Linked DNA regions of Homo sapiens. The protein of the gene in region 4 purifies or fractionates together with the protein of the main gene of each other region. This does not show direct contact. Each region holds a gene or a part of one and is shown on either strand. Other genes may lie near its edges. The genes, in order: SPRYD3, TTF2, DNAAF4, CETN1, CCDC191, LHX4 and PCID2.

What was found.
Region 1: the proteins of CETN1 (region 4) and SPRYD3 purify together in Homo sapiens (co-immunoprecipitation; 3 studies listed by BioGRID and IntAct, with this or other methods). This does not show direct contact.
Region 2: the proteins of CETN1 (region 4) and TTF2 purify together in Homo sapiens (co-immunoprecipitation; 3 studies listed by BioGRID and IntAct, with this or other methods). This does not show direct contact.
Region 3: the proteins of CETN1 (region 4) and DNAAF4 purify together in Homo sapiens (affinity purification with mass spectrometry; 2 studies listed by BioGRID and IntAct, with this or other methods). This does not show direct contact.
Region 5: the proteins of CETN1 (region 4) and CCDC191 purify together in Homo sapiens (affinity purification with mass spectrometry; 2 studies listed by BioGRID and IntAct, with this or other methods). This does not show direct contact.
Region 6: the proteins of CETN1 (region 4) and LHX4 purify together in Homo sapiens (affinity purification with mass spectrometry; 2 studies listed by BioGRID and IntAct, with this or other methods). This does not show direct contact.
Region 7: the proteins of CETN1 (region 4) and PCID2 purify together in Homo sapiens (affinity purification with mass spectrometry; 2 studies listed by BioGRID and IntAct, with this or other methods). This does not show direct contact.

The regions. Positions count from the first base shown.
Region 1 is NC_000012.12:53,072,219-53,076,623, reverse strand, and holds part of SPRYD3 (SPRY domain-containing protein 3), read left to right. Parts: intron 1-812; coding exon 813-888; intron 889-1,404; coding exon 1,405-1,529; intron 1,530-1,839; coding exon 1,840-1,975; intron 1,976-3,152; coding exon 3,153-3,338; intron 3,339-4,405.
Region 2 is NC_000001.11:117,104,795-117,108,327, reverse strand, and holds the end of TTF2 (transcription termination factor 2), read right to left. Parts: 3' UTR 875-3,533; downstream 1-874. UniProt on the Homo sapiens protein: DsDNA-dependent ATPase which acts as a transcription termination factor by coupling ATP hydrolysis with removal of RNA polymerase II from the DNA template. May contribute to mitotic transcription repression. May also be involved in pre-mRNA splicing.
Region 3 is NC_000015.10:55,429,215-55,432,833, reverse strand, and holds the end of DNAAF4 (dynein axonemal assembly factor 4), read left to right. Parts: intron 1-231; coding exon 232-337; intron 338-2,054; coding exon 2,055-2,164; 3' UTR 2,165-2,526; downstream 2,527-3,619.
Region 4 is NC_000018.10:578,617-583,100, forward strand, and holds CETN1 (centrin-1), read left to right. Parts: upstream 1-1,763; 5' UTR 1,764-1,792; coding exon 1,793-2,311; 3' UTR 2,312-3,498; downstream 3,499-4,484. UniProt on the Homo sapiens protein: Plays a fundamental role in microtubule-organizing center structure and function. Plays a role in sperm cilia formation.
Region 5 is NC_000003.12:114,003,881-114,008,285, reverse strand, and holds part of CCDC191 (coiled-coil domain-containing protein 191), read left to right. Parts: intron 1-2,323; coding exon 2,324-2,778; intron 2,779-3,539; coding exon 3,540-3,649; exon of another isoform or gene 3,650-3,899; intron 3,900-4,405.
Region 6 is NC_000001.11:180,267,946-180,272,350, forward strand, and holds part of LHX4 (LIM/homeobox protein Lhx4), read left to right. Parts: intron 1-1,707; exon of another isoform or gene 1,708-3,434; coding exon 3,435-3,589; exon of another isoform or gene 3,590-3,889; coding exon 3,890-4,061; exon of another isoform or gene 4,062-4,405. UniProt on the Homo sapiens protein: May play a critical role in the development of respiratory control mechanisms and in the normal growth and maturation of the lung. Binds preferentially to methylated DNA.
Region 7 is NC_000013.11:113,191,293-113,195,697, forward strand, and holds part of PCID2 (PCI domain-containing protein 2), read right to left. Parts: intron 3,834-4,405; coding exon 3,779-3,833; intron 1-3,778.

The DNA.
Region 1 (4,405 bases), on a different chromosome or scaffold from region 4:
GAGGGGATCCAGCTGGGTAGGGGAAGGGATCACATCAGACACAGGAGGCTGCTGGGGTCTCAGAAGCTTCCTAGGTGCTTTGTTGAGAAGACTCCAGTGGGGTAACTGAGTCTTCTGCCACTGTCTCAGGGATTAGATCTAGTGAAGAGTGGCTGTTTCAGAGATAGTTGATTTCCTGTTTGGGGAAGGGCCATTCTATAGTGTACCCTGTCCACCAACTCCTGTATTTCCAGCCCCTTAGCTTGTGTGTGTTTCCTCCCTCTTTTCTGGCTTGAACCCCTTCCCTGACTCCTTCTGAGCCCATGCTCTCACAGAGTTCCACTGAAGGGGGAAGAAAGTAGTACTGTTTAACTAGAGGCAAGAAAGCTGAGGAGTGGGAACTGAATCACTGTCTTCCAATCGATGAAGGGCTTTGGTAAAGAGGATAGAGACCAGCCATTATTCTCCAGCTCCACTGAGGACAGAGCCAGAGGAAAAGGGCTGAAGCTGCAGCATGAGAGATTGAGGTTACACAGGGTTGTGAGACCTCTCTTAGGCAAGTAAGGGAGGCTCTACATTCTTTTCCTCCTGGAAATGAAGAAACCAGGCTTGCACTGGTCTGGTACGGGTTGGATTCCAGCTGGAGGCTGCGAGAGGAGTAGGGTGAGGTGACCTTAAGTATCTGGTTCTGATGTCTGCCGATGTACTGAAGTGCAGCCTGATGGATTCTCCTGTGTGCTGGCCCTTGCAGGGTAAGGGTGGGAGAAGCTGAGGCCCTCCCCCTACTCTTGGGCTAGGCTGCTAATGGAATTCCCCCCTCATTCCTCCTTCAGTTATCATGGAAACTCTGGTGAAGTTGGCTGCTACGTGGCTTCTCGACCCCTGACCAAGGACAGCAATTATTTTGAGGTGATCAAGGCAGTGGGTGGGCAGAGCAGGGGGTGAGCTTGGGGGTGAGATCATTAAGCCCCAAGAAGCTCCTTTACTAGATGTATGACCTGGGCCTTTTAATTTTCCATCAGGGCTGTCCTGTTGGCTGGGAAATAGGTGCAGGATAGCATGGCCCCTCATCTGAGAGATAGGTGCCCTGGAAACCTGTCACCCTGTCCCTTCTGCTCTCCTACCCCTTAGCTAGGTAGACTTTGACCCATATCCCAGACTTGACTCATGTCCCCTAACCCAAACCCACCATATAGGGACGTGAGTCCTATCTTTCTCCAAAGCTTTGGAGTAATTTTCTAAGTGAAATAGGCACCCACTCTCACCAATTGCCCCCTCTGAGTATCTTATCTTTTTTCCTGATTCCCATGTCCTTTTTCTTTTTGAGCCTCAGCGCCCTTTAATCTCTAAGTCCCCTTCCCCCACCCCCAGCAATTCATCCCATTTCCCAGCCCTGCTGACTGTGCCCTGCTTTCTTCTCTCCAGGTGTCTATTGTGGACAGTGGAGTCCGGGGCACCATTGCTGTGGGGCTGGTCCCTCAGTACTACAGCTTGGATCACCAGCCTGGCTGGTTGCCTGACTCTGTAGCCTACCATGCTGATGATGGCAAGTGAGTTGGCTCCTGTGCAACCCGGCCCTTTTCCTATGAATTTGGGAATCTTAGATCTGAAGAACTACCTTGGGCTGGCTTTTCCCATTGGGTGTTTCATAGACTTTTCTGGTCAGGACAGGGAAGTGGCCTGGCAGCACCCTTGAAGGCTTACAGACTAGAGGAGGGTGATGCTCACGCCAGGACGTAAGTGGGTACCATCACAGAATGACCAGGAGCAGCAAGATGAGGATGAGGCCTCTGCTGTCAGTGCTGGGGAGAAGTTGGGAGGCCAGGCTCGGGTCCTGTGTCTGTACTACTCTGTCTGTAGGCTGTACAATGGCCGAGCCAAGGGCCGCCAGTTTGGGTCAAAGTGCAACTCCGGGGACCGGATTGGCTGTGGCATTGAGCCTGTGTCCTTTGATGTGCAGACCGCCCAGATCTTCTTCACCAAAAATGGGAAGCGGGTGAGTGGGAAATAGTGGTGGGATTTACGTGGCTGAAATCTGCCCAAGGATTTGTGGGGAGTGATTAGGAAGAGTCTGCTGGCTGGGGCTTGCCCAGGGACCCTTGCACTGAGTTCCCATCTCCTCCAGTCCAGCCTCAGATTCTCCTGAAGTCTCTTGCGTGTAGGAGAAGATACTTCCCATGGCCAGAGGAAGCTGGGACATTGCCCAGATGACAGGCAGAGAGAGGCAAGTTAGTGGAGCAGAGGATGAGCAGGAATTGTGGGGAACAGAATTGGGTGATTTGGGGGAAGGTTTTGAGCAGATAAAAGAGAGGGGAAGATTATGGCCTGGCCATGTAAGCTGGAGGTCCTCTTTGGGTTTTGACTTGAGCACTTTTGGGGATATGTCCTTTCTGTGTCCTGTTTTCCTTGTTTCACGTCTCTTTCACTATCCTGTTCGTAGAGAGACTAGGCGTGGTGAGGAGATGGGACAGGAGCCAATAGTAGAGAGAGACACACAGCTCTCTCCCTTCTCTCCAACTCCATCTCCCACATTGGGAAATTGGTTTCTCAGGCCTTGGCCAAGGGGTCCTGCTGCCTTAGCATCTGCGCCTCGGCACTCTCCTGTCCAGCACACGTACTGAAAGTATTTGGCAGCAAGTCAGGAGACTTGTGTTTGTCTTCTAGCTCTGTACATACCTTGCTTAGCCAGGAGTACTTAGCACATTTGGAAACTTTTCTGCACCTCTGGGTTGCTTTTTTTTTTTTAATCTGTCAGTGTGTGTGATAATTATTGGTTGCATCATCTTTTTTTTTTTTTTTTTGAAATGGAGTCTCGCTCTGTCCCCCAGGCTGGAGTGCAGTGGCACCATCTCGGCTCACTGCAAGCTCCGCCTCCCGGGTTCACGCCATTCTCCTGCCTCAGCCTCCCGAGTAGCTGGGACTACAGGCGCCCGCCACCACGCCCGGCTAATTTTTTGTATTTTTAGTAGAGACGGGGTTTCACCGTGTTAGCCAGGATGGTTTCAATCTCCTGACCTTGTGATCCGCCCACCTCGGCCTCCCAAAGTGCTGGGATTACAGGCGTGAGCCACCACGCCCGGCTGGTTGCATCATCTTAAAAGTACCCTTGTGAGAATTAGGTGAGCTATGGAAAAGCAGGCCGGGTGGCAGCTCCGTCTTTCCCCCCACTGCAGGTGGGCTCTACCATCATGCCCATGTCCCCAGATGGACTGTTCCCAGCAGTGGGCATGCACTCCCTGGGTGAGGAGGTGCGGCTGCACCTCAACGCTGAGCTGGGCCGTGAGGACGACAGCGTCATGATGGTGGACAGTTACGAGGATGAATGGGGCCGGCTACATGATGTCAGAGTCTGTGGGACTGTAAGTAGCGGGTGGGAGGGTGGGAGGGGCTGGGTCGGAGGAGGCTGGGCAGAACACCTGTGGGCACATGGTCATGTCTGAATTGCTGGGAATGGGGAGTCGGGACAGTGTCCGTGTGGGGTTTGGCAAGATAGCCTAGGCTCTTGACATGAGTCCTTGAGTCCAGATCTGTGTTTTCTTTAGCACATGTTCTCTTTTCTTCACTTCCTCCTCTTCAGGGAACTCAGGTTCGCAGTTTGACCCTGGGAACAAGTAGTTCTGCTTTGCCTTTTTTGGTTCCTTCAGCTTCTGGTGTCTTCTACAGCCCTGCACAACTGCCTTTGAGGGGCTGGGGGTTGATCTGGAGGCAAAATGCCTGGCCCAGGCTTTTCATTCAAAGTGTTGTGGGGCAGGTGTGGTCAGAAGTCCACACATGTGGTGGAAGGTTCTTAGCCATCTTTTTTGAGGAAGTGTCAATGTCAGTTTCTATTGTCTTATCCCTGCATTTGATAGAGGATTAGAATGGAGGCAGATAAAGATTCAGTGAGCATCCTTACACCTCCAAACTTGCTTCATTTATCTTTTCCTCATACCTGCTTTAGTATGGATTTTAAGCTTCGTTGGGAAGCGTGTGGAGCTTGAGAAAGGGGAATTCTTCCTCCCCGGATTTTAAGTTTTGTTGGAAAATTCATGAACCTTGAGAAAGGAAAATTCTTCCTGTCTGCCTCAATACACTGTGCTGCATTGGGAGTGAATGGACGCCAAGTCCGGGATCTGGCCCTGACCTCTAGTGGGCTGCTCAGCCCTCCCACTTCGAATTGTCCCTCTCCTACCCCCTTGCTCCTGGCCTGGCCTTTTTCTCCACCCTCTGGCCTTTCCACCCCAACCCAGGCTGTTTTCAACTCAGTCTTTGATAACAAAACAGAAGCAGTGGGGGGTGGGAGCGGATTAGGAGCCAGGCCTCCCCCTGGTGGAGTGGAACTCAGGGAAAATGACAGGAAGTGTGCCCTCCTGCTGCTTCTGACACTCTGCACCCCCGTCTGGCATCAGGGTCCCAGGCTGCAGCGACCGAGAGCTAAGAGGCCTCA
Region 2 (3,533 bases), on a different chromosome or scaffold from region 4:
CTGAAATGCTTTTTTCACAGATACCTTCATGATTCATGTTCCTCTCAAGTTCTCGCTCCAGTATCAAAAATCACCCTATTAGCTAACTACCCTGTACAAAATAGCAACTTCCCACCCCAGAGTTGCCCAGTTTCATCACCATCTCACATATATATATGTTTTGTTTTGTGGTTTTTTTTTTTGGAGACAGGGTCTCTCTCTCTCTGTTACCCAGGCTGGAGTGCAGTGGCACAATCTCGGCTCACTGCAGCCTCTGCCTCCCGAGGTTCAAGTGATTCTCCCACCTCAGCCCCTGGAGTAGGTGGAACCATAGGCACACCACCCCCCCGACCCCATGCCTGGTGAATTTTTTGCATTTTTTGTAGAGATGGGGTTTTGCCATGTTGCCCAGGCTGGTCTCAAACTCCTGGCCATCTCAGCCTCCCGAAGTGCTGGGATTACAGGCCAACATGTATATATTCTGTTTGTTGTCTGTCCTCTCATATTAGATTGTAAGCTCTATGAGGGCAGGGATATTTTTAAACTACCATACTGTCCCGATGTAGGACAGTTCCTGGCACATAGTAGAGACTTAATATTATGATCAGTGAATAAAGATCTAATTGGTAGAATTTTTAGTTTGGATCTCCTTGGTATCTGTTTTTATAAGCCAGACTTCCCTTCTCCCGAACCTCAGTATTTGTCATTTAAACAAATACCACTTGGAAAAAAAATCAGCCTTATCTCGAGTCTGTTGGATAAATTATATGCACCTGAGAGACCAGCCTTGAATTTTCCAATTACCTCATACATCTAGGGAACTGCTTCCCATGAAGAAGCCTGTTGTATTATATCATCTATCCCCATGTGCCTTTTAATGAATCTGATTTCAGAATTGAGAACAAAAAGCTTACCATTTATTTCAGTTGGAGGTTTCAGTGATTGGACAACTTTATGTAGATGAAGTAACATTGCAATAAAAAATTTCCAGAAGACATCTAGGTTCTGGCTAATGTGTTAGCCTTTAAGCAATATTAATGGTAACAATTCTGTTACAAATATTTAAAGTTTGTGTGTGGGTGTTGGGGATTGGGGGTGCTGTCTCATGCATGCACTACAGTGGAGTCCAAACTCAATTTAACTGAGCTGTCTTGCCTGCTGAAAGACCTGGCAGAGTCAGTGATCAACAGAGCCCAAGACTCCAAGGTGAGGCAAAAAAAGAGTGGGAGGATTTAGGAGCTGTCCCCAGTGTAACAAAGTGCTTCAGAAATCACCTTTGAATTGTGAGCATTGAAGCGTCAACAAGATGCAGCATTATGATGTACGTTATGCCTCTGGTGTTACAGGTAAGAAAAAAGAGTCACAAATAAGAGCCTCTGTCCTCTGGGATGTTGTAACAGGATAAACACCTTGGCTGTCTTGGATAATAAACATACACATACCTGTCAGCCCACCCATACTCTAATGTCCCAAATGCAATAGTTGCTCAACTTTCCTCCAGAGAATGTATCCCTGTATGGTAGGTTTGGCTCAATGAAGAGGTGGTTCAATGAAGTGGATGCTCATTAGAAGCAGGCAGTATAGGAAGAAACATCTCACTCTGACTTGTGAGCTCTTACATATTGATTTCCATTCTTTCATCACTTCCTCAGATCTTCCCTAACTAGGTCAAATCCTGTTATAAGCCCTCCCAGCCGCACAGTCCTCTCTTGTAGCACTCAGCATCATGGCTGATTCACAGCCACACGGGGTTGACTAATGCCTGTCTCCCTTAGATGCTAAGCCTCAGGAGGACAGGATAGTTTTTCATTTTTGCTTACTTTTATATTTCCAGTGCCCAGCAGTGCCTGGCATATAAAAAGTGTTCAATATACATTTCTGAATTACTGTGTGGATAATTAAGCAAGAAAATAGTCTCATCCTTTCTGAAGTAGTCTCTACCTATTAATACATCTGGATTTAGCTATGGAATCTGGGTAAAAAGAACTCAAGATAGTAAAAACATTGTGTAGCTGCATATCTGTCGCCCCTCTTCCCTCCCTGGGAGTTAGGCTGGGTTTGCTTTTTTTTTTTTTCATATCTATCTCCATCCCCTAACTACTGACTTCTGTGGTAGTTTGTACTATAAATGACCCTGATTTCATTTGTAGTTATGAAGACATTTTAGTCTAGGTCATATGCCTAGGAATTCTGAATTTCTATTATAATTCTCTTTGTGCCTACAGATGTGCTTTTAAATTGTTCCTGCCCTTTCCTAAGTCTAGATGCTATATCACAAACAGCAGCACAATATCCCACTTTGGAAACCTAATTCTTTCAAGGTATTAGAGTTGACAGCAAAATTTCAGACAACCAGAGGCCACACTGAACACTGGTGTCTCCATGCTTATCCTATTAGTGCAGGAGAATCTGGCTTCACCTTTGAGCCCTGCTAAAAGCCATTTCATTGAGCAACAGACAATCAGAGCAAGGAAACAACTCAGTGTTCATGAATTGCCATGCTAAATCACTCACAGGATTGATAGAGAAATAAGTCACCTCCCATAAACAGAAAATTTTTTTTTTCTGTTTTTCCTTCTTTTCATTAGCAATTGTTCCAAAAACACTTACTCTGCTAATTTCTGCTAGAAAGAATCACCGTTCTTTCTCTGTGGCCCAGGCTGGAGTGCAGTGGTATGATCTCAGCTCACTGTAACCTCCGCCTCCTGGATTCAAGTGATTCTCCTGCCTCAGCCTCCCGAGTAGCTGCAATTACAGGCACCCAACATCACGCCTGGCTAACTTTTGTATTTTTAGTAGAGAGGAGGTTTTGCCATGTTGGCCAGTCTGGTCTCGAACTCTTGGCCTCAAGTGATCTGCCTGCCTCAGCCTCCCAAATGCTGGGATTACAGGTGTGAACCACTGCGCTGGGCCTGCAATGGGAGTCACTGACAAGGTTTTTAAAGGGCCCAGGACTCTGTCTAGCTGCGGCATGCACAATACTCCTATTTGATCAACATGGCTAAGGCAAAGTCAAACTACATACCTTCCATGAAGTCAATTCTGTCGAGTAAGAAATGCCTTATAAATCCGGTGCTCAGGAATGTTGCACTTTGGAGACAGATGTTCACCATCTGGTTCTCAGCTGCACCCATGCTGCTGCTGGTTCTCATATTCCCAGACCTTGTCCCACAGCAATAACACTAGCACTTGTGTGGCCCTTCATGGTTTTCAAAGCATTTATTACCTCATATCATCCATGCCCAAGTCAGGTGCAATAGGCAGATGTAAAAAGCAAATCCAGCAGCAGTATTGTGACATGAAGGAAGGCTGGTTAACACAGGCAGGACTCATAGTGCAGCACCTCAATTAGACCACTGTGTTGTGGGATGCTGCCCATCGCTAGAAGGTGCAAAGACCCACCTTGTCATACCTAGACTTGACGAAACTGATTTACACTAAAATGAATATGAGGCTGAGACAGATACCAGAATGCCACTTCTGTTAATTCATGCCTGTCTCCCTTAGATGCTAAGCCTCATGAGGACAAAACAAAAAAAACCAAACAAACCCAG
Region 3 (3,619 bases), on a different chromosome or scaffold from region 4:
GGACTACAGGTGTGCACCACCACAGCCAGATAATTTTTGTATTTTTTTTTAGTAGAGACGGGGTTTCGCCATGTTGGCCAGGCTGGTCTCAAAATCCTGACTTCAGGTGATCCACCTACCTCGGCCTCCCCAAGTGTTGGGATTACAGGCGTGAGCCACCATGCCCAGCCTTTTGCTTGTTTAAATTAAGAAACTATAACTTTCTTGTAATAATTATATATATTTTGTAAGGCACTGGAATTATTGATGCCACCTGTTACAGACAATGCTAATGCAAGAATGAAGGCACATGTACGACGTGGAACAGCATTCTGTCAACTAGAATTGTATGTAGAAGGTAAGGAATTGATAGAAATGGTTTAAGTCCCAAGTTATACTCTGAAAAAAATGTCATTGGAATTATTTAAGATCGTGACTTTTAAGGACTCCATTTTTAAATATTTTTAGCATTTAATTTATTCTTAGTAATGTCTGCAGTATATCTGACAATACATGATTTCTAAATTATATTTAAAAAATTCATTGTAGAAGAGAATTAAAATAAGTGTAAACAACAAGTTTCAGTCTAGAAAAATGCTATATTAGCTGGGTGCAGATGCTCATGCCTGTAATCCCAGCACTTTGGGAGGCAGAGGCGGGTGGATCACCTGAGGTCGGGAGTTCGAGACCAGCCTGACCAACATGGAGAAACCCTCTACTAAAAACACAAAATTAGCTTGGCGTAGTGGCACATGCCTGTAATCCCAGCTACTTGGGAGGCTAAGGCAGGAGAATCCCTTGAACCCGGGAGGCGGAGATTGTGGTGAGCCGAGATCATGTCATTGCACTCCAGCCTGGGCAACAACAGCGAAACTCCTTCTCAAAAAAAAAAAAAATGCTATATTACCAGACAACTCTTCATAGAAACGTGTGATAAATGCTGGGTGTGGTGCTTCACGCCTATAATCCCAGGAACTGGGGAGGCTGAGGTGGAAGGATGGCTTGAGGCCAGGAGTTTGAGACCAGCTTGGGCAACATAGTGAGACCCTGTCTCTTAAAAAAAAAAAATACATGATAGGCTGGGTGTGGTGGCTTATGCCTGTAATCTCAGCACTTTGGGAGGCCGAAGCAGGTGGATCACAAGGTCAGGAGATCAAGACCATCCGGGCTAACACGGTGAAACCCCGTCTCTACTAAAAATACAAAAACAAAATTAGCCAGGTGTGGTGGCGGGCGCCTGTAGTCCCAGCTACTCAGGAGACTGAGGCCAGAGAATGGCGTGAACCCGGAAGGCAGAGCTTGCAGTGAGCCAAGATCACGCCACTGCGCTACAGCCTGGGTGACAGAGCAAGACTCTGTCTCCAAAAAAAAAAAAAAAAAGATAAAATATATAAATGATTTGAGATATCATGGATATTTATCTCAGAGAGCTTCTTCGGTCATCCCTGTATGTATGTATGTATTTGTGTGTGTGTGTGTGTGTGTGTGTGTGTGTATACACACACCTAAGCTCGGAAATAACTGATCCACCATAGTGCATGCACATTGCTTATATTTGTTAGATTGTATTAAGTTCTGTAATTTAGCTCTATGTATACAGAAAATATAGCATTTATTTTATTTTATTTTAGATAGATTTAGGGGCCGGGCACGGTGGCTCACACCTGTAATCCCAGCACTTTGGGAGGCCAAGGTGGGTGGATCATGAGGTCAGGAGATCGAGGCCCTACTGGCTAACACGGTGAAACCCCATCTCTACTAAAAATACAAAAAATTAGCCAGGTGTGGTGGCAGGTGCCTGTAGTCCCAGCTACTCAGGAGGCTGAGGCAGAAGAATGGTGTGAACCCAGGAGGCAGAGCTTGCAGTGAGCCGAGATCATGCCACTGCACTCCCGCCTGGGCAACAGAAGGAGACTCTGTCTCAAAAAAAAAAGATGGGAATCTAATTTAAAACTTGGTACTTGTTCTGAACCATGCTACTAGTGATTATTTTTATTTTAAACAACTATTGTCTAGATAAAAGAAGTGCTAATAAAATATTTATTGTATTAATCATCATTGCTATATAAACACAGGCCTACAGGATTATGAAGCGGCACTTAAGATTGATCCATCCAACAAAATTGTACAAATTGATGCTGAGAAGATTCGGAATGTAATTCAAGGAACAGAACTAAAATCTTAATGACTATTAGAAGTAACTAAGTATTGTTATAAGTTTTTTAAAAACAACTGGAGGCATCTTTGTACATATTATGGCCAGTTGTACAGAATCGCTTTCTGTTTAGTACTTTAGTTCTGTTGAGGGCAAAATATTATAAATCTATAGAAAATAAACTGTTTGACTTGAATCATTTCTGAATAAGTAAATCTAAATAAGAATCTATTTTAATTCCTTATTTCTTCATATTAATACATATGTATACTTTTTTGTGTTACTGAATTAAGCTTGCCCTTGTAACAAAATATGTTTTGGTATAGTTACCAGGACACTTACTGATTAATTTTTAACAAGGTAGAATTTTAAAATAAAAGATTTATAAATAACTTTTGTTTGTATTAATATACCATTTAATTGACTGAATGGTTGACTTTGGTATAATAAATATTGACAGGTTGTCCGTTAGTTTCCAACTGCACAGAACCTTATTTTTTTGTTTAATACTTCTCTAATGCTTGTTGTTCAAGATTAGACCAGTTCAGCCTAGTATAAAACAACTGTTTAGAAAACCTTATATTCAACTTCATTTATAGGCTGTGCACCTGAAAACTGATCATATTTCATAACACTATCTGGTGAAGATAAATTTTTGAGTGAAATAGTTTTCTAGTACCTCCAAGTAGACAAGGGGGAGAAAAGACAGCAAAGTGTAAGATATTAACCTGGAATATTATGGTATTGGTATTGGACTGCACCATCATTTGTGTTGTATCACTGGGATTATGCAAGTGTTAAGCACAATAGCACAGCTTCCCTTTTGCTTGTAGTTACTGTAATTCTCTAATTAAATTTTAAAGGTTTTTTTTTTTTTTTGAGACGGAGGAAGTCTCCCTTTGTTGCCCAGGCTGGAGTGCAATGGCGCGATCTTGGCTCACTGCAAGCTCTGCCTCCTGGGTTCAGGCCATTCTCCTGCCTTAGCCTCCCGAGTAGATGGGACTACAGGCGCCTGCCACCACGCCTGACTAATTTTTTGCATTTTTAGTAGAGATGGGGTTTCACCATGTTAGCCAGGATGGTCTCAATCTCCTGATTTCGTGATCCACCCACCTTGGCCTCCCAAAGTGCTGGATTACAGGTGTGAGCCACCGCGCCCAGCCTTTTTTTTTTTTTTTCTTGAGACACAGTTTCACTCTTGTTGCCCAGACTGGAGAGCAGTGGCCTGATCATAGCTCGCTGCATCCTCCACCTCCCAGGTTTAAGGGATTCTCCTGCCTCAGGCCTCCTGAGTAGCTGAGATTACAGGCACCACCACGCCTGATTAATTTTTTGTATTTTTAGTAAAGACAGGGTTTCATCATGTTGGCCAGGTTGGTCTCGAACTGCTGACCTCAGGTGATCCACCCGCCTCGGCCTCCCAAAGTGCAGGGATTACAGGCATGAGCCACCGCGCCCGGCCTTATTTATTTATTTTTGAGATGT
Region 4 (4,484 bases):
CTCACTCTGTTGCCTAGGGTGGAGTGCAGGGGCACAATATCTGCTCACTGCAACCTCCGCCTCCTGGGTTCAAGCGATTCCCGTGCCTCATACTCCCAAGTAGCTGGGATTACAGTTGTGCGCAGCAACTCTCAGCTAATTTTCGTATTTTTCATAGAGACAGGGTTTCACCTTGTTGGCCAGGCTGGTCTTGAACTCCTGACCTCAGGTGATCCTCCCGCCTTGGCCTCCCAAATTACTGGGATTACAGGTGTGACCCACTGCACCCAGCCATAAAACTCTTTAACACAAACTCTTCAAAGTGACATCTTTTGTAACCTTCATAGGTTACAAAAGGTATTGATATATTAATAGATTGAGATTTGATTGCGGGGGGGCGGGGCAGGGGGAGAATGCTAAAAAAATAAGTCAGCTTTCTTTTCTGTAACTATTTAAAAGAATGCAAAGTAATTCTACAGGCAATTCCTTGGTGGGCTTATTTGGTAATTTTTTTTTTCTTTTCCATTTTCCTCTTGCTCTTTGGTTTGTAGGAGAACCGCTTTATTCCCAGGAGGCAATTTTGAGTCCCAACATGTCCTGCATCATCTCCTGTGCCCATTGCCAAAGGAAGGCGACCAGAGCGTGGGTTTCAGCACAGCTCTGATTGGATGATAAGCAAGGAGAGTAATGTGCTGCTAGGAGGTTAGAGAAAAGAAAATACTAGAATATACCAGAATGTAGTATTTCCACTTCCCTCCCTCCAAATCAAAAGCCTCATGAATGAAATTATGACCATTATTCAAGTGCAATTATACTGAGTATGTAAAATGGAAACACTGAAAGTAAATCATACATTTGGATATTACATTTCATATTTGAGAACATGCCAGAAACATTGTATTATTGTTGAGTGTAATGTCAGGAGACAAACTTCTACGCATTTTATACATAAATTTTTCCATTTTCTCTGTTTCCCATTTATGTCAAGTTGAACACATGGTATGACTTTTAATATTCTCTCTTCCTTCTCCTTCCCCACATTGAATGTCAAGTGATCACACTCAATCTTGATTATCCTAAATTTACCCTTAGGACCTGTCACCTCATTGGGTGTTGCCGCTAGAACAAGAGGGTTTTTTAAATGGTATAAAAAGGAGAGGCCCGGCTTGGTAGCTCATGCCTGTAATTCTAGCACTTTGGGAGGCTGGGGCGGGAAATCCCTTGATCCCAGGAGTTTCAGACCAGCCTGGGCAACATGGTGAGACTCTGTCTCTATAAAAAAAAAAATTTTTTTTTTTAATTTAGCTGGGTGTGGTGGCATGCCCTGTAGTCTCAGCTACTATGGAGGCTGAGGTGGGAGGATCACTTGATCCTGGAAGGTGGAGGCTGCAGTAAGCTGAGTGGCACCAGTGCACTCCTGTCAAAAGAGAGAGAGGAGAGAGAGAGAGAGAGAGAGGAAGAGTCCCTAAAGAAACCTATAAAACTGGGGTCTTATGGATGCTAGCACATATCTTGGAAAGAACTGCCAGCGCCAGTGGATTACAGAAGACAACTGTGGCTACAGGCTGTTCTTGCCAGCTCAGGCGTCAACTCGTGGAAACCGGTTAATGACCCGAGGGGACAGCGGATTCTCGCCTAAGCAAGATCCCGCAGATGGGAGGGCGTAGGAAGAGGTTCCCCGGGCCGGCTCCAGGCCCCAGCGGGCGTGGGCGTTGGCAGTGAGCGAGGGGTGGTCCCGCGCCGCGCCGGCGGGGGGCGCCCGAATGAGAGCGCGGGGCGGTGCCGTTGGGACCACGGCGGCCAGAGCGGCAGGATGGCTTCCGGCTTCAAGAAGCCCAGCGCTGCCTCCACCGGCCAAAAGAGAAAGGTGGCACCTAAGCCCGAGCTCACTGAGGATCAGAAGCAAGAAGTTCGGGAAGCATTTGACCTCTTCGACGTGGACGGAAGTGGGACCATCGACGCGAAGGAGCTGAAGGTGGCCATGAGAGCGCTGGGCTTCGAACCCAGGAAGGAAGAGATGAAGAAAATGATCTCCGAGGTGGACAGGGAAGGCACGGGGAAGATCAGCTTCAATGACTTCCTGGCCGTGATGACGCAGAAGATGTCCGAGAAGGACACCAAAGAAGAAATCCTGAAGGCCTTCAGGCTCTTTGATGACGATGAGACCGGGAAGATCTCGTTCAAAAACCTGAAGCGTGTGGCCAACGAGCTGGGGGAGAACCTCACGGATGAGGAGCTGCAGGAGATGATCGACGAAGCTGATCGGGATGGGGACGGCGAAGTGAACGAGGAGGAGTTCCTTCGGATCATGAAGAAGACCAGCCTTTACTGAAGTCGGTTCAGAAGCTAAAGTGACTCTCTGGGTTGCCTGCTTCCATTTTGTGAAACCTTAGAGGACAGCGGCTGCCTGTCCCTTCTTCACCCCCTCACCCCCATAATTTGTCTAGATCTATTTCCATATCTCTAGTTCAATAATAGAATTTGAAAGATGCTTGTAATGTGAGTTTTGGGTTTTAATTCTCAAGAGTCAACCTGGAGCACATGAGGTTAAACAAAGGGCCCTGAAGTTTGAGTGCGCCCTCCATTTGCCCTGTGCTGAACTTGCTGTTCATCTGTTGATCTGGAGGCAGGACAGCTTCTGGGACACACAAAAATGTGGTTCCCTTTGTCACTTCTTTGGTGGTCTTAAATTATCTTGCTTCATATATCATTCCTTAAATTCCAGTCATTGTTCCAGCATAATGAGATGGAATCTGCCAGTAGATTTGCCTAGCCTGTCCACTTAGCTGAATACCAGTTTGAAGGAAAACAGGGTGGCCACTTACAAACTTACGGAGCTCAGGACAGATAATCTTATAAAGAATAGACTTGCTTGGGTGGTAGTACGTTGTGCAATTTTGACTATTCACTGGCTTTATACCTGCAAATGATTCTTCGTTCATGTGTAAATTGTCCACCATGGGTTTATCTAGGGCTAGTATGTATACCTGGGCTACAGAATAAAAATAAAATCTAATACTGGCCCAAGCAAAGTATAATTTGCTTAAGAGGTTACGCTAACAAACGATTTTGAGTAAATATTTACAAATGTAGGATCTTAGTTTAGGAAATTATAACAAATACCTTAATATAACATTTTAAGCTACTTATAGTCCTTGGAAATAGCAACAAATATCTTAGTTATTGGACTATTATAACCTTAGTCATCTTATTACTGCTTGATTATGAGACACTCTCCCTGCTAATCCTTAGAACATCTTGGTTCTTGGTACTTGACTTTTAGCCCCTCTGACATATAGTTGATGTCAGAGTGTCTGGCATTTCAGTAGTGCTCTATTTTACAAATCCCAGTAAACTGCTCCACTGTGGCTTGTTTATGTGTTAATACTGCTTGTTTTCTGTTATAAATTATTTTTTGCTTTGGAGTAAGATATCATCATTTTGCATAGCTACAAATCTGAAGTTAAAGAAAATTTTAAAAATGTAATTGTGGGAAAATAACAAATAGATCTGCTGAGATGGAGGCTTTGACTAATGTTTTAATAACAGGCAACAAAACAAAGAGGCAGGATATTTTGGTCACAACTAAACCTAAATTAAATCCTCATACAAAGCCCCATTAAGATAAATGCTCAAATTCTGGGAACATTTCACTTGCTTTGCCAGCAATTTTACCCTTCAGAGGGTGTGGATCTAATCAGGGGAACAAACTACCCTGGGCTTAATTCTCATTAACAGGGACTAATTTGTCAAAGCGGCAGTACTAGCTGAAGTGATGGGTATGGAAGCATTCACTGTGAGGATTTTGCTGAGGTGCCTGGCACAGGGTAGGGGAACTCACCCAGGCTGCAAGATGCTAACAGTTCAGGTTCAAGGTCTTAGTGTGGACTAAGGTGCAGTCAGGATGGGAACAGGTGCAACTTGGGCCAACATCAGTATGAAGGGCCTGATCTGAGGGCAGGGGAAGGAGGGGGCATTCTGGGAAGCAAGAGTTCCTGGTATCCTGTTGACCAGAGTCTTGGCCCAAGGATCAACGTATGAATTAAAGTAGAAATACCAGAAACAAAGAAAGTTGGCAGAAACTAGGAGAAGCAGAGTCTCAGCCAACTGGACTGGGCTCAGCCTTGGCTACTGGCCCGGCAGATGATAGAAGAGAAAACCAGGAACCCAGGCTGAAGCCCAGTGGTTGGGCTGGCCACACACCATGCATAGCCTTAAAGGGGTGGCCTAAGGGCATGGTCCGCTCCAAAAAAGGAAAGGGGGCCCCAGAATATTTCTGAATCCCACTCACTGCCAGGGAAGAACCTCTCAATTCACTCAATAGTGCATTCTCCTGCTTCTCAATAGGCTAATACTCTAGAGAATATGGGGACAAGGGGAGGAGGGTCTAGTGGAACAGGTCTAAACTGGCGTTTGAATTTTAAGATAAGTTAATCATACATTGGCTGGGTCAGCCATGTCTCTTAGTCTTTACAAAAGTAGAACACAAAAAAATTCAATGGAAA
Region 5 (4,405 bases), on a different chromosome or scaffold from region 4:
ATTTTGTCTCCATTGAGACCCAAGACAGACTTCTATCTTAAGAAAGAGCTGTATGGAACCTTTTACCTTACAAAGTGCCACTGTTCTTAAATGAAAAAAAAAAAAAAGTCAGCAGAAAGTATTTTTTACCTGTGCAAAACAGAAAAATTACTATATATATGTAGTAATTTATATATAGTAATATATATAGTAATTTATATATATAGTAATATATATAGTAATTTATATATATAGTAATATATATATAGTAATTTATATATATTTAGACTCAAGGGAACAAAAGACTCCAAATCTCTGAAATCAAGAACAAAAGACTTTATCAAGAAAGGACAGTATTGTTAAAAATGGAGCAAATGATAATAGAGGGCTACAATAGACCCTGTAGAGACTAAGTAAACTAATCTTTTTCCAGCGTGTACAGCAAAACATGACCAAGTGAAAATATAAAATCTTTAGTTAGATGCTCATTAATTATACAGTCATAGGAACTCATGTACTAAGAACACACAAACTGTACCTTGAATTTTTCCAAAATTATCAGTTAGCTAATAGGTGATTTTCTCTAATTAAGTCAGACCATTCACTCCTGCTCTATTAAGTACTATCTGTACCACTAAGCTTTTCCTTCATGTTCTTTATTTTCATGTTAAAAAGTTACCATGATCCAAAAGAAACCCTGTCGCTTTACTCAGGGCTTTGACACAGTCTTGCTAGGTTAATAAGGTGTCATTACCACCAAGTTTAAAAGAACCTAAAACATATACCCTGCTTGATATAAATTGCTTAAGCAGGTGTTCTCATGAATAAGTGTTCACTGACATTACTGAAATAAAAGGTTACTTTTAAAAGTGTTTAACATGTCAGAGTTTCCATATATCACATCTTTCATTTCAGTTGAGTCTATGGAAAGCATTTCTATAATCGTGAAAAATATTTTTGAGTCCCTAAGGATGGGGTCCTGTTAGAACAAGAAGCTTCTGATATTTAGATAGCTCATAGCATTTTTCTCTTTAAGCCATTGCAGATGGCAGAATCAAAAACTTAGACCTTAGAACATGGACTCAAACCATTCTAGAAGAGACACTTTAATATGACATTATTTTGGCCAAGATAGCTGTTTCTAAATAAAAATTCTTGTTTCCTTCCCCTCTGTATAGAACTTGTAATTGAGTATGGTACCTCAGTCTATTAAATGGGATTTATGTAATAAAGCTTTGAAAACTAGTGATATGCTAATACAAAATATTATTAGGTAACATTATTCTTATGTAATGCAGATATTTGCCCAGTGATCCTGAGCTTCCAAATATTTCCCACCCATAGATAGTTTGTAATGCAGATATTTGCCCAGTGATCCTGAGCTTCCAAATATTTCCCACCCATAGATAGTTCAGGAATAGCTGGAAACGGTTAGCTAGGCTTTAACGGGACCTTGATGCTGAAATAACTAAATATCCTATACTATGGCATATGATTAATTTACTAGTGTCAGGAGAGGCATTGAAAGAAAAGAGATATATTATTCATTTGTAAAGATATTCTTTGGTTTTCAGACATTCTCGAGAAAGAATATATCCTTTGCCACAACATCTTCAAATTTCCACTAAAATTCAGAGTCAATTTATGCATATTAAATTCATGTTTTTTATATATAAAATATATATATTTATATATATATATATATATATATATATATATCTGGAGTAACCTTGCCTAATTCACAAATGAACTGTCCAAATTAGAAATTTATAAGAGAAGATTTTTGCTATTACGAATGTCCTGGCCCATGGCAATGGTTCATACAGCTGTAGCCACTCTCCCAGTTTTCTTTTTTTTTGAGCCAGGGTCTCGCTGTGTTGCCCAGGCTGGAGTTCAGTAGCACAATCTCAGCCCACTGCAACCTCCACTTCCCAGGTTCAAGCGATTCTCCTGCATCAGCCTCCTGAGTAGCTGGGATTACAGGTGCGTACCACCATGCCTGGCCAACTTTTGTACCTTTAGTAGAGACAGGGTTTCACCATGTTGGCCAGGCTGATCTCAATCTCCTGACCTTAAGTCATCTGCCCATCTCGGCCTCCCAACGTGCTGGGATTACAGGCATGAGCCACCACAGCCGGCCACTCTCCCAGTTTTCATGGTGAGCAGCAATGCATGTTTTAAGAGTGGTGGCCTCTGAGGTAGCCAGGCCAGGAGCACAGACCACCTTTACCTGCAATACATGGCAGTTGTGCCATTAAACAAAACAATACTGACCTCATAAATGTTGGATTTCATCAGCACAGTCCTTTAAATAGTTGAGCTATAACATGTTTCTCTCTCTCAGGAGACTGCTGTGCCCCCTTTGTGGGAAAAGCCTCCCTTGGGAAGCAGTGGTTGTATGCTCAGTCCTCCCCTGGGAAGAACAACAACAGGCAACTTGCAGGGTTCCCTTCAGAATGTCTCTCTGAGTGCACCTGGCAATAAGCAGCACAAGACCCTGGGTGCTGAACCCTCTCAACAGCCTGGCAGCAACGAGACACTCAGAACTACCAGCCAGAAAGCAGAACCGCTTTGCTTGGGTCATTTCCACAACCGCCATGTCTTCCAGCAACAGCTGATTGAGAAGCAAAAGAAGAAACTTCAGGAACAGCAGAAAACAATTCTCGAGCTGAAGAAAAACCTGCAGCTGGCAGAGGCTCAGTGGGCAGCAGAGCATGCCTTAGCAGTCACAGAAGCACAGAGCCACCTGCTGTCAAAGCCCAGAGAAGAGGAACCAAGAACCTGCCAGATGCTTGTGAAGTATGTCTGTTCTATCAGAACTCGCTGGACTCATTTTAAGGGGTTTTTCACTTTGGGCTCCTGAGCTTCTTTGCCCTGCTTCTGAGCCCCATGATTGTTCCTTTTCCTTGATTTTGCACTCTCAAAGCAAAGAAGCCTAGTTATGACTAGTATATGACAGGCACAGATAGTCAAGGATGCCTGTAAGGATCCAGTTATACTGTTAGCATTTGGGTCACGGCTGCCTTTGAGGATCTCTGTTACTATGCCAGTTAAAGAGAAAAATGCTGTCTTGCTCTATTTCTGGGTTTCTAGCTATGTTAAGTGCTGAGAAGCCAAGTCAGACAACATCAGGTCCACATGGAGCAGCCCCTGGGCTGGCTTATTTCCTAGCTTAAATTTGTAGTTGTTAGGGATAAAACAAAACATCTTTGAGCCTCAAATAAGAGCCCAAGTTTCTCAAAAGCCACGTAAGATGGTTTCAGTTGTGCTTGAGACATACTCATTGCATGTGGTAAATGGTAGGATAAGATGTGGTGACACCTATGGATTTGAAGCATTAGGATGGGAGTCACAGTACCTGACTCACTGTGTAGACTCATGCCGATCACACAACCTTTCCATACCTCATTACACATATTTATGGAGTGGATATAATATGTAGTTATCTCAGAGAGTAGGGATTCATTAAGGTCTGTAAAAGGCTTTGAGCATCTCAGGTCAAAGGAGTTTGAAGGAAACTGGTTAGTAGTCTAAATTCCTTTCCTTTATTTTTTCCCTAGTTCACCTGTTGCTTCCCCTGGGACTGAAGGCAGAAGTGACTCCCGAAATTCTCTTTCTGGACTCAGAAGGAAACCAAAGCAATTGATGACACCGCATCCCATACTAAAAGGCAGGGCTGTCTCGGTGGTGGCCTTGGTGGTTGTTATCTTCTCTCCTAGAGTAGAATGTGTACACTGGGACTGAATTCTGGCAACTCTTGAGGTTTTGAGACTTGGCAGAACCTGACATCAAAAATCTCAGAATGGTAGACATGTGAGGAGTGGAGTACACCAGAGAGCCCCACTACTTTTTTCCTGCCCCTTTTGCCAACCTTTTTGGCATTCCCAGCCAACACACACACAAAAAAACATAGCTGAAAGGTATATCATTTTTCTGTAATTTGAGATTTGGATTGTGAAAAAAAAAGGAATAATTACACAAATGAGAAAACTCTGAGTAACTGCCAAGGACAAACACTGATAAAGGACACCTGTCATTGTACTTTGTTAATGTTCAAATTTGATCAGTTTACAGTAATCCAAGATAAGTTATTATTTTATAATATTATAACTTGTTGATAGGATTTTAGTAATAAAACCTACAAACCAGATATGTTAATTTGATAACATTTTTGATGCATCTAGAAACATTTATTTATTTGGTACAGGCAGGGTCTTCCTGTGTTGCCCAGGCTGGTCTCAAACTCCTGGCCTCAAGGAGTCCTCCCACCTCAACATCCCTAGGTGTTGGGATTATAGGCATGAACCACTGCACCTGGCCAGAAACCCTTATTTAAACTAAACTATACGAATAGAAGCATTCTTCAGAACCCACCTAGTGAATCTGCTAATTGTTTTTACTATATGCTTAGTCCTTCACTGTACTT
Region 6 (4,405 bases), on a different chromosome or scaffold from region 4:
CCTGTCTCTTTGAGGACCTTCCCTCCCACCACCCCCACAGCTCTGGCCTTTCAGGGTGGACAGAGGCCTTTGACCTCCTTCCTCCAGAGACCTGGGGCCTCTGCAAACCCATCCCAAGGCTCTTTGCCTGCAATGTACTAATCTGCTCTGGTTTCTTAAAACTCACTCCATGCTATTGCCTTGAAGTCAATTGTGATGTCATGGGAGATTAGGGCAACTTGTCAGGGATGAACCATCACAGCAGATGGACTCAGAGATACCAAGACACCTTTGGAAGTCTAGTGCCGTTCATCAGAGATACTAAGATGGCACGACCTCCCCGGCCTGCAGCTGGTTCTCATCAGAGGCCTCATTTGGACTCTGAGCACTCTCAGCTCAGCATCTCCTGATGTTGTGGGTGGTTCAAGAGACAAGAGAAACAGATGTAGATTGGTCAGAATCTGGCTGGGGAGGTGGGAATGACATTGTGGTGCTCACAGTTTTATCGAGGAATATTTGCACCACAGCAGACCTCTGCAGGATGATGGAAGATGCCGGACTTGCTGTCAGAAGCTGGCTGGGCATCCCCCCACACAGGGAGATCTCCTGGCAAGTTGTAGAACTGGCTGACCCTCGGCTTCTCAGCTGTCTATGGAGGATCATAGCATCTGCCACGTAGGGCTGTTTTCCTGAGGTTTAAATAGGATGAGGCTTGTGAAATGGGATGTGAAATAAGAGACTGACGTGGAGGAGAAGTGCAAACAGGGAGGTGAGGTGTGCTTGAGGTTTTAAAGCAGCGGAATGTTACACAGTATTTCTGGCCTGTTCCCCGGGTCCTTTCCTGACCCCACCCTGGCTGTGAGCAAGGCAGGGCTCCTCTGTCCTGGGCAATCGGTGATCCTTGGAGCAGCGGGGAGTTCTGTCCACTGCAGAATGCCTGGCTGTCTTTTCAGGTTGTTTTAATTCCTCCTTGCTACTCTCAGCCCTCCTGCAGGCTTACAGTTCCCTCCCATTAGCTAAACAAAGGATCTCAGAGCAGTTACTTGCACCTTAGTGTGAATGATTTTGTTCACTTGTTCCGTCTCCCTGGATATTTGCATTTTCAATATAATGAGGTTGCGTTTTATGCCAGGGACAAGTTCTAGGAGACCCTGCATCATTCAAAACTAACATATTTTAAGACTAATTTTCCTGTAGGAATTAATGTAGAGTGTGTGGGGGGGGGGGTGGTATATTCTGAGAGCACATAAATCCATAACCAGTGAAGTGTATCTTTGCCTTAATGCTACTTTTTATTTTCTCAGCATTATCTTGAATACCTTGCAGAACGCTCTCTCCTAAATTAACAGCCCAGGGTATCATGGGCTCCCTTGGCCTTCCTCATAGCGTTTTGTCACATTTAACTTCCGTACCAAAGTTATTGATTTTTGGGTACATTTTTCAGCACGAGCACTGCCACTGCTACTTAATGAATACTTGGATGACATTGTTATGGGATATAAAAAAGATTTTAAATTATAATAACAGTGAATGTTAAAATAACAGCATATTAGTCCCCATCATTGCAAGAAGAAAATCCTGTGTGTGTAGCAGTGCCGAACCAGCGGGCCACCAACCAGGATGACGGGTCTATCCCAGTGGCGCTACCATCTGGCTGTGGTGAAAAGAATTTATAATTCCGTAGGCCAAGCTATTTTGAAATTAAGTGATTCTCGAGAAATTAAAACATTTTTGGTGATTGCATTATTTCACATTTTTTAATATAAAGATTGTACACAAGTGCACTATTTCCCATTTGCATAATTCAAAGTTGCATCAGACACTCCCGTGTAGACTATAAATATGCACAGAAGGGACAGACTCCTCAGAATGAAAAGGAAGGCATTTTGGAGGTTCCCCTTTGTCTTTTGGAATGACTCTCTAAGTAGTGTAGTCTCTGTGGCAGGGGCTCCGGAATCCCTACCCTTCGGGTTCAGGGCTTCAGGGAGGGAGTTGGGCCACAGTAGTTCCGGGATGACAGTGGCCACGTGAGAGAAGAAAACAGCCCGAGGAGAAGGGAAGGCACGGGTGTGTCCCCCCTCACTGTGTACACACATGTCCTGGCTGCACAGCTGCTTCATTCCTCTAGTGCCTCCCAAGATCAGGGCAGGCCGTGTTGCCCTCTGGACTTCCAAGGGGGAAGTGAGTTACTGGCCCAAGTCACTCACTCATCAAGAACACTGAAGCCAGGTCTGCTGACTCCAGGGAGAGCCTTGTAGATTGTGAGGACCGAATGCATATAAAGTCCTTAGTCAACACCAGCACATGGTAGGTGCTAACACATGTTGGCTACTATTGTTTCTAAGAGAGGGTTTTCTTGAATGGAAAGAAAGGAGAAAAGACAGAGAGGAAGTCAGGAATGTCACAGAGACACCTTCTGGGGCACACAGGTGAGCAAGCACAGAGAGCAGAGCTGCCCAGGCCAGCTGCTGACTTTATTCCGTGTGTCCTCCAGGGGCACTGTGGAGAAAAGGGCAGTATGCCTAAGTGCTGGGAGAGGAAACAAACCTTTACATTCACCTGTGCTTCCGAACACACGCACGCGCCTCTCTCTGTACCTGACTTTGAATGGAACAAACCAGACTTTAACTAACAGGAACTTGAGCTTGTTCACTCAAAATCTGTCTAGGACTTTGTGTTGATCAGTCAGTGTGTTGCCCAGAACATTCCTTAGACTAGTTTTCTCAAAAAATTTTGACTACAATCCACAGTAAAACTCATTTTACATTTCATCTCAGTACACATATTTATACAATAAAAACTAAAGTTTAATGAAATGATCTTGCCATTCCATCCCATTCTCTTCATCTGATTTCCTGTTTTAGTTTTGATCCACTAAGGTGACTTTACAGCCCACGAGTGGGTTCTGACCTATAGTTTAGAAACCTGCTTAGACACTGTTGGGTGTGCAAGCTCACCCCTGGCTGTGAGCCCAGCGACGCCAGGGCAAAGGTGACATGGCTGTGGGGAAATGGGAGACTCCTGATGAGACAGAGGGGAGGGCATCTGGGGCGACTTTGAACATGACTTCAACCTGGCTGTTCACCTTCACAGCTCTGGCAAGAACTCATGAGGATGTGTGAGCAGAGTGTTTGTCATGACAGGGACGTGTGGAATTGGGTACATTCAATCTGATGAGACTTCTGTGCAGCTGGGCTGGCAGGGGAGGGTTGAGGCAGGGAGCTGAGCAGAGAAAGGACTGCTGTCCTCACTTTTCAGTGGCTTGGGAAGGCCCGTGGTGCAGGAGTCAGTGCCATGAGAGTGGGGACCTCTCCACTCTGATGTCCCCTGTGCCTCGCGCTGTCCTGCCTACAGCAGGCAGGCTTAGGTGCAGAAAGGATGGAAGGGAGGGTGTGGGAGGAGGCGCAGCTGCTGCAGATAGGCCGAAGCCAGTAAGCAGTGGTTTTTCCTTGCAGATGACTCAGAGGCTGGAGCTAAGCGGCCCCGGACCACCATCACAGCCAAGCAGCTGGAGACATTAAAGAATGCATACAAGAACTCCCCCAAGCCTGCCCGGCACGTGAGGGAGCAGCTGTCCTCAGAGACAGGCCTGGACATGAGGGTCGTACAGGTGAGATGCCAGCACTCCTGTGCCCTCCGGGGATCCCAGGCCCGGGACAGGGGTGGAAGGTATCCTGAGTGACATCAGCTCACGGGTGGTTGGGCTCAGGGCTTGACCCCAGGGCTTTTGCCAGAACTGAAGACAGAGTTCTGAGGCCCACCTGGGGAGAGGGGGTGGGGCGCATCGCACTCCCAGACCTGTGCTCCATTCAGGCTTCAGTCTGCTTCCAGCCGCCCGCCTAGGGGGTCCTGGGGGCTTTGGGTTTGTGGTGGACGCCCCCTGAGTATGTCCCTTGTGCTTGTGTGGCAGGTTTGGTTTCAGAACAGAAGGGCCAAAGAGAAACGCCTGAAGAAGGATGCAGGGCGGCACCGCTGGGGGCAGTTCTATAAGAGCGTCAAGAGGAGCCGGGGCAGCAGCAAGCAGGAGAAGGAGAGCTCTGCAGAGGACTGTGGGGTTAGTGACAGTGAGCTGAGCTTCCGAGGTGAGCAGGGCTGGAGGGGCCAGGCCGAGGCCTTAGGAAAGTCCCCTGGGAATCTGTAATCCCTGGCACTCAGGAGGGATCTTTCTTGAGGCCTTGGCAACTCCCTCCTGAACACAGGCTTTTCCTTAAGACTTGCAGTGAAGGGTGGGGGAAATGGTAGTGGCCCTTTACCATGGGACAGGAGTAGGAAACAAGATTGCTGAGGTCTGGAAGCTGGGATGGGCCAGGCCCCGTCCTGTGGCCCCAAGGTCTCCCCTCCCCTCCTGCTGACTGGGGCCTCCCTCATCAGCCCACACAGCTATGAACAGATGACTGGGTTCCAGCCTTGTGCCCCTAGCCCCTCT
Region 7 (4,405 bases), on a different chromosome or scaffold from region 4:
GGAAGTGTTGGGATTACAGGCATGAGCCATTGTGCCCAGCCAAAACATTTATTTCTTGAAGCAAAAAATGGGTACAATTAAGACTCAAAGTCCCGAAAGATCCTGGAGAAATCAGCTAGCATGTACTATAATATTTTTAAAAATTGAGAAGTCTGTATTACTCCAATTCTTTCACAAACCAAATCTTTCTTCAATTATTTCAAGTTAAGTCAGTCACCAATTTTTCAAACCTGCACTGCATATGTTACTAAGCAACTAAGCTCTCTCTTCAGTCCCTGAAGTTGGCTAGTCAAAACACTTGAAATAAAAACGTTTAACAAATATTAAAGTCATCACTGAGTTTGACTTTTCCCTCGCATTTGGGAGGATGGCCTTGGTTAAAGAAGAAAGAGTCTGTTTCTGCCACTTGTGTTCTCCACAAACCCGAGGCCTGCAACAGGCTTGCAGATGACCCACAGCTCAAACTATATTCACAACAACACTAAGCCATTATGGTCTTTTTTTACTGTATTAACGTTTGCACTGATGGTGCAAAAACAGCAATAGGTAAAATGCTGGAGTGCTCCCACCGGCACCAAACTACGCAAGTAATCACCACGTTCTTAAACACCAGACACTCTGCAATCAATCAGTCAATCAACAAACCAGTAAAATTAGTTTCCTTTAAAAAATGTCCTCGATGAGCCAAGCACAGTGGTTCACACCTGTAATCCCAGCACTTTCGGGAGGCTGAGGTGGGAGAATCACTTGAGCCCAGGAGTTTGAGACCAGCCTGGGCAATATGGCAAGACTCTGTCTTAATTAAAAAATTTTAAATTAGCCCGGTATCATGGCGTAGACCTGTAGTCCCAGCTACTCAGGAGGCTGAGGTGGGAGGCTTCAGCCCAGGAACTCAAGGCTGCAGTGAGCTATGACTGCACCATTGCACTTCAGCTTGGGTGACAGAGCAAGACCATCTCTAAATAAATAAATAAAATGTCCTTGATAATGCAGTAAATATGAATTTTCTTAAATCTTGGTCCTTGAGCACACGTTTTTTATATTCTTTGTGATGAAATGAGAAGCATACAGCACTTCTGTTGCACACGGGTGTCTCATGGCTGTTTACAGAAAAGCTCTGGGCAGCTGTCTGAGCTGTGAGCTGAACTAGCTGCTTCTTGCAGAACAGAAGACAGGCAGACACAGCTACCCAGGCTTGGGCATCTGGCTGACCATATTCTCCAAAACGAATAGAACAAATCTGTCACTTCCAGGCAAACAACTGATGGTACTCGTTGCCAATGACAACATTTGTGCTTTCAAGAAAAACCAGAATTCTGGAAAACTTTTATGAACTACTGTGAGCTTAGCAGCTTTTCCTTACTCCAAGGCTTTTCTGATGAGGCCCCTGGAGATGTTAAGGAAGGTAGGGGTTTGGGGGTTGGGTTTTTAACAGTGGTATATCAGCACTTGGGAGGTGCTGCATGGCTCAGTAAGCTAATATACTCCAAATGGTCTGCTATGGTCTGAATGCTTGTGTCCCCTCCAAAACTCATGCTGAAATCCTAACCCTCAAAGTGACGGTGTTTGGAAGAGAGGCCTTTGGAAGGTGATGAGGTCATGAAGGTGAAGCTGTCATGAATGGGAAAGAGAGATCCCTTGCCCCATCTACCATGTGCAGACACAGCAAGATGCTATGAGCCAGGAAGCGGCCCTCTTCATCAGAAACTCAACTTGATCTGGACCTCCCTGCCTGACTTGATCTGGACCTCCCTGACTTGATCTGGACCTCCCTGCCTCCAGAACTATGAGACATAAATGCTTGTTGGTTACAAGCCAACCCAGTTTATAGTATTTTCTTATAGCAGCCCAAATGGACTAAGACATGACTAACACAAGATATTACGAAATCCATTCAGTGCTTTAGGCAGACCAGTGGATTTCAGTGTAAAGGTAGAAAAAGTTTATTGGTACACTTCAGAAGCCACATTGTAACTAACCTTTTTAAAAAAAAAAAACTGCCTCTTGGAGTTTTCCTATATAGAGTCAAAGAATTATCTCAATGGTCTGGAAAGCCTATGAGAATATTCCTCTCTTTTCCATCTACAACTTTGTGATGTAGCCTTTCACCATCAGGCAGAGAAACACTTTACTCAAAACAGTGTACTGCAACAGAGTAAGTGCAGAAGCAGGCAAGGGGACCAGATTGCCTCTGCTGAACTAGACATCAAAGAGGTCAAAAGTGATGTGACACTACTTTTCTTAGTATTTTGTTTTGGAAATATAGTTATTTTTTATTTAAAAAGTCAGTTATGTTACATGTAAAAGGTTTATTATTGTTGCTTTAAAATGAATATTTTAAAATCTTTTCTAATTAAAATTTCTAATACAGTAAATATAAATAGATATAACAAAAATAAAAGCTTTCTGAGGTCTTCAGTATACTTTTCAGTTCTAAAATTTCCATTTGGTTCTTCTTTATATCGCCTATTTCCTTGTTGAGACTTTAAATGTTTTCATTTGTTTCAAGCATGTTCTAAATTGCTTGCTGAATCAAGAGGGCTGTTTAAAACTCTTGTCACATAATTCCAACATTTGTACAATCTCAGCCTTGGTGTCTTCTGCTGAATGTTTTTTCTCATTTGAAATCTCTGAAAGTTGAGATTTTCCTGGTAATCAGTGTCGATTAGATCCCGGACATTTGAGGCACTACCTGACGAGACTATGGACTTTATTTATCTTGTTTAGCAGGCCTCACCATGCAAGCAGAGAAACAGGTGCATCCCCTTAGCCACTGAGTCGGGGAGGTCTAGGTCCCCTGCTTAGCCTCTGACATCCACCTGGTGGGGAGGGGGACTAGCTCCTCATTACTGCTAGCCCAGGGTGGAGGTCCTGGGCCACCCCCAGTCCGCACCACTTTGCAGATGGGGTGGGACGGACCTGCTGACTTCTTTGCGCCTGGCACTGGAGTGAGGCAGTGACGGTCAGAGTTCTGTCTTGCTGGATTGGACTGTCTTCCCAGCCTCCTGGTTTCCTTGGGGCTTTTTGTCTCTGCCTGATGGTGAAAGGCTTCAGGTTTCTAACGCGCCCAGTCCAGGACAGACAGGAGACAAAAAGGAAACCTGGAGACTCCCTACACGTGACTCTGAGCCCCATCCCCCTCTTCTCTCCACCTCCCATAGCCATGCCGGCCTGACAACTCCCAGGGTTTTAACTGTTTCTAGCAGGCACAATAGGGTGAAATCCATTGCATCCTGACTGGAACTGAAGTCAACAATCATTTCTAAAACTGTAAAGGGGTCGTCCTAAAACCAAAAGGTTGACAAATGCTGCTCCATAATGGGGACTTCCGTGGGTCCCCATGGGGACGTCGCCTCCATAAAACCCAGGATCTCCCTTCACCCCAGGGAAGCCCCCTCCTACTGCCCAAATCTATATGAAGCTGAATTCTTTTTGGTGGGGGAGCAGGCCACATCTTAAAGGTAGAAGAGATGCAGAATAAGCTCATTTGTTGTTGTTCCACTCACTTCATAAAAATAACACATACCATAAATGGTTAACCACAAAATGGAACCTCTCCCTCTATATGAACAGTGTGGAAATCTGAGCAAATGTTTATATAAATCTGTTGGTGTTAACCCAGAAAGAATAGTCAATATCTTTCTTTTGCTCCCTATACCAGACACATCTCAACTCCAATTTGCTCCTCAAAACTTCTGGGAAGAATGACATGAAATTAAACAACAGATAGTCACCAAGTTTTAGTTTTAAAATAATAATGACAGCAAATTAAACTTACATTATTGGCAAACACTCGAAGGTCAAGCGCTACTGCATACATGACAGGCAGAGCCCTGCAGGGCAAAAAAGTAAACAAGTGTGAGGGGCTACGTGGGCCAAGATTCCATCCCCAGAGGTGGGAAGAACACGGACACCCAGGGCTACTATCCAGAATGGAGTCCGCACTTATCCAAAACTCTGACAGTTGTCTGCTTCCTCACCTTCTGTCCAGGCAGGCTGCAGGCCTCAGACTTCCTGATCATCCTGGGGCCCCACAATGCGGTGCTCCACACCCCTGTCCCCAACCCTGTCAGAGACCTCAGCCCTGCTTCAGTTCTGGGCTCCCAGGATATCCTCCTCCCCTCAGCTTCCCACCAGTATCCAAACAGCACCACTAAAAAAGAAGTGGTTTGATCAGATTTCCTAACAGGAACCAGAATATGTAATACACAAAATGTCACAAAACAACTTTTACAGCCAACTGGCAAAACTGGACTGTTTTCATGTGCAAGTTTTCACGTTAAAAGATAAAAGGGTGGCGGGAGGCAGAGGCTGCAGTGAGCCAAGACTGCGCCACTGCACTCCAGCCTCGGCGACTGAGCAAGACTCCTTCTCAAAAAAAAAAAAAGATAAAAGGGCGGGTTTG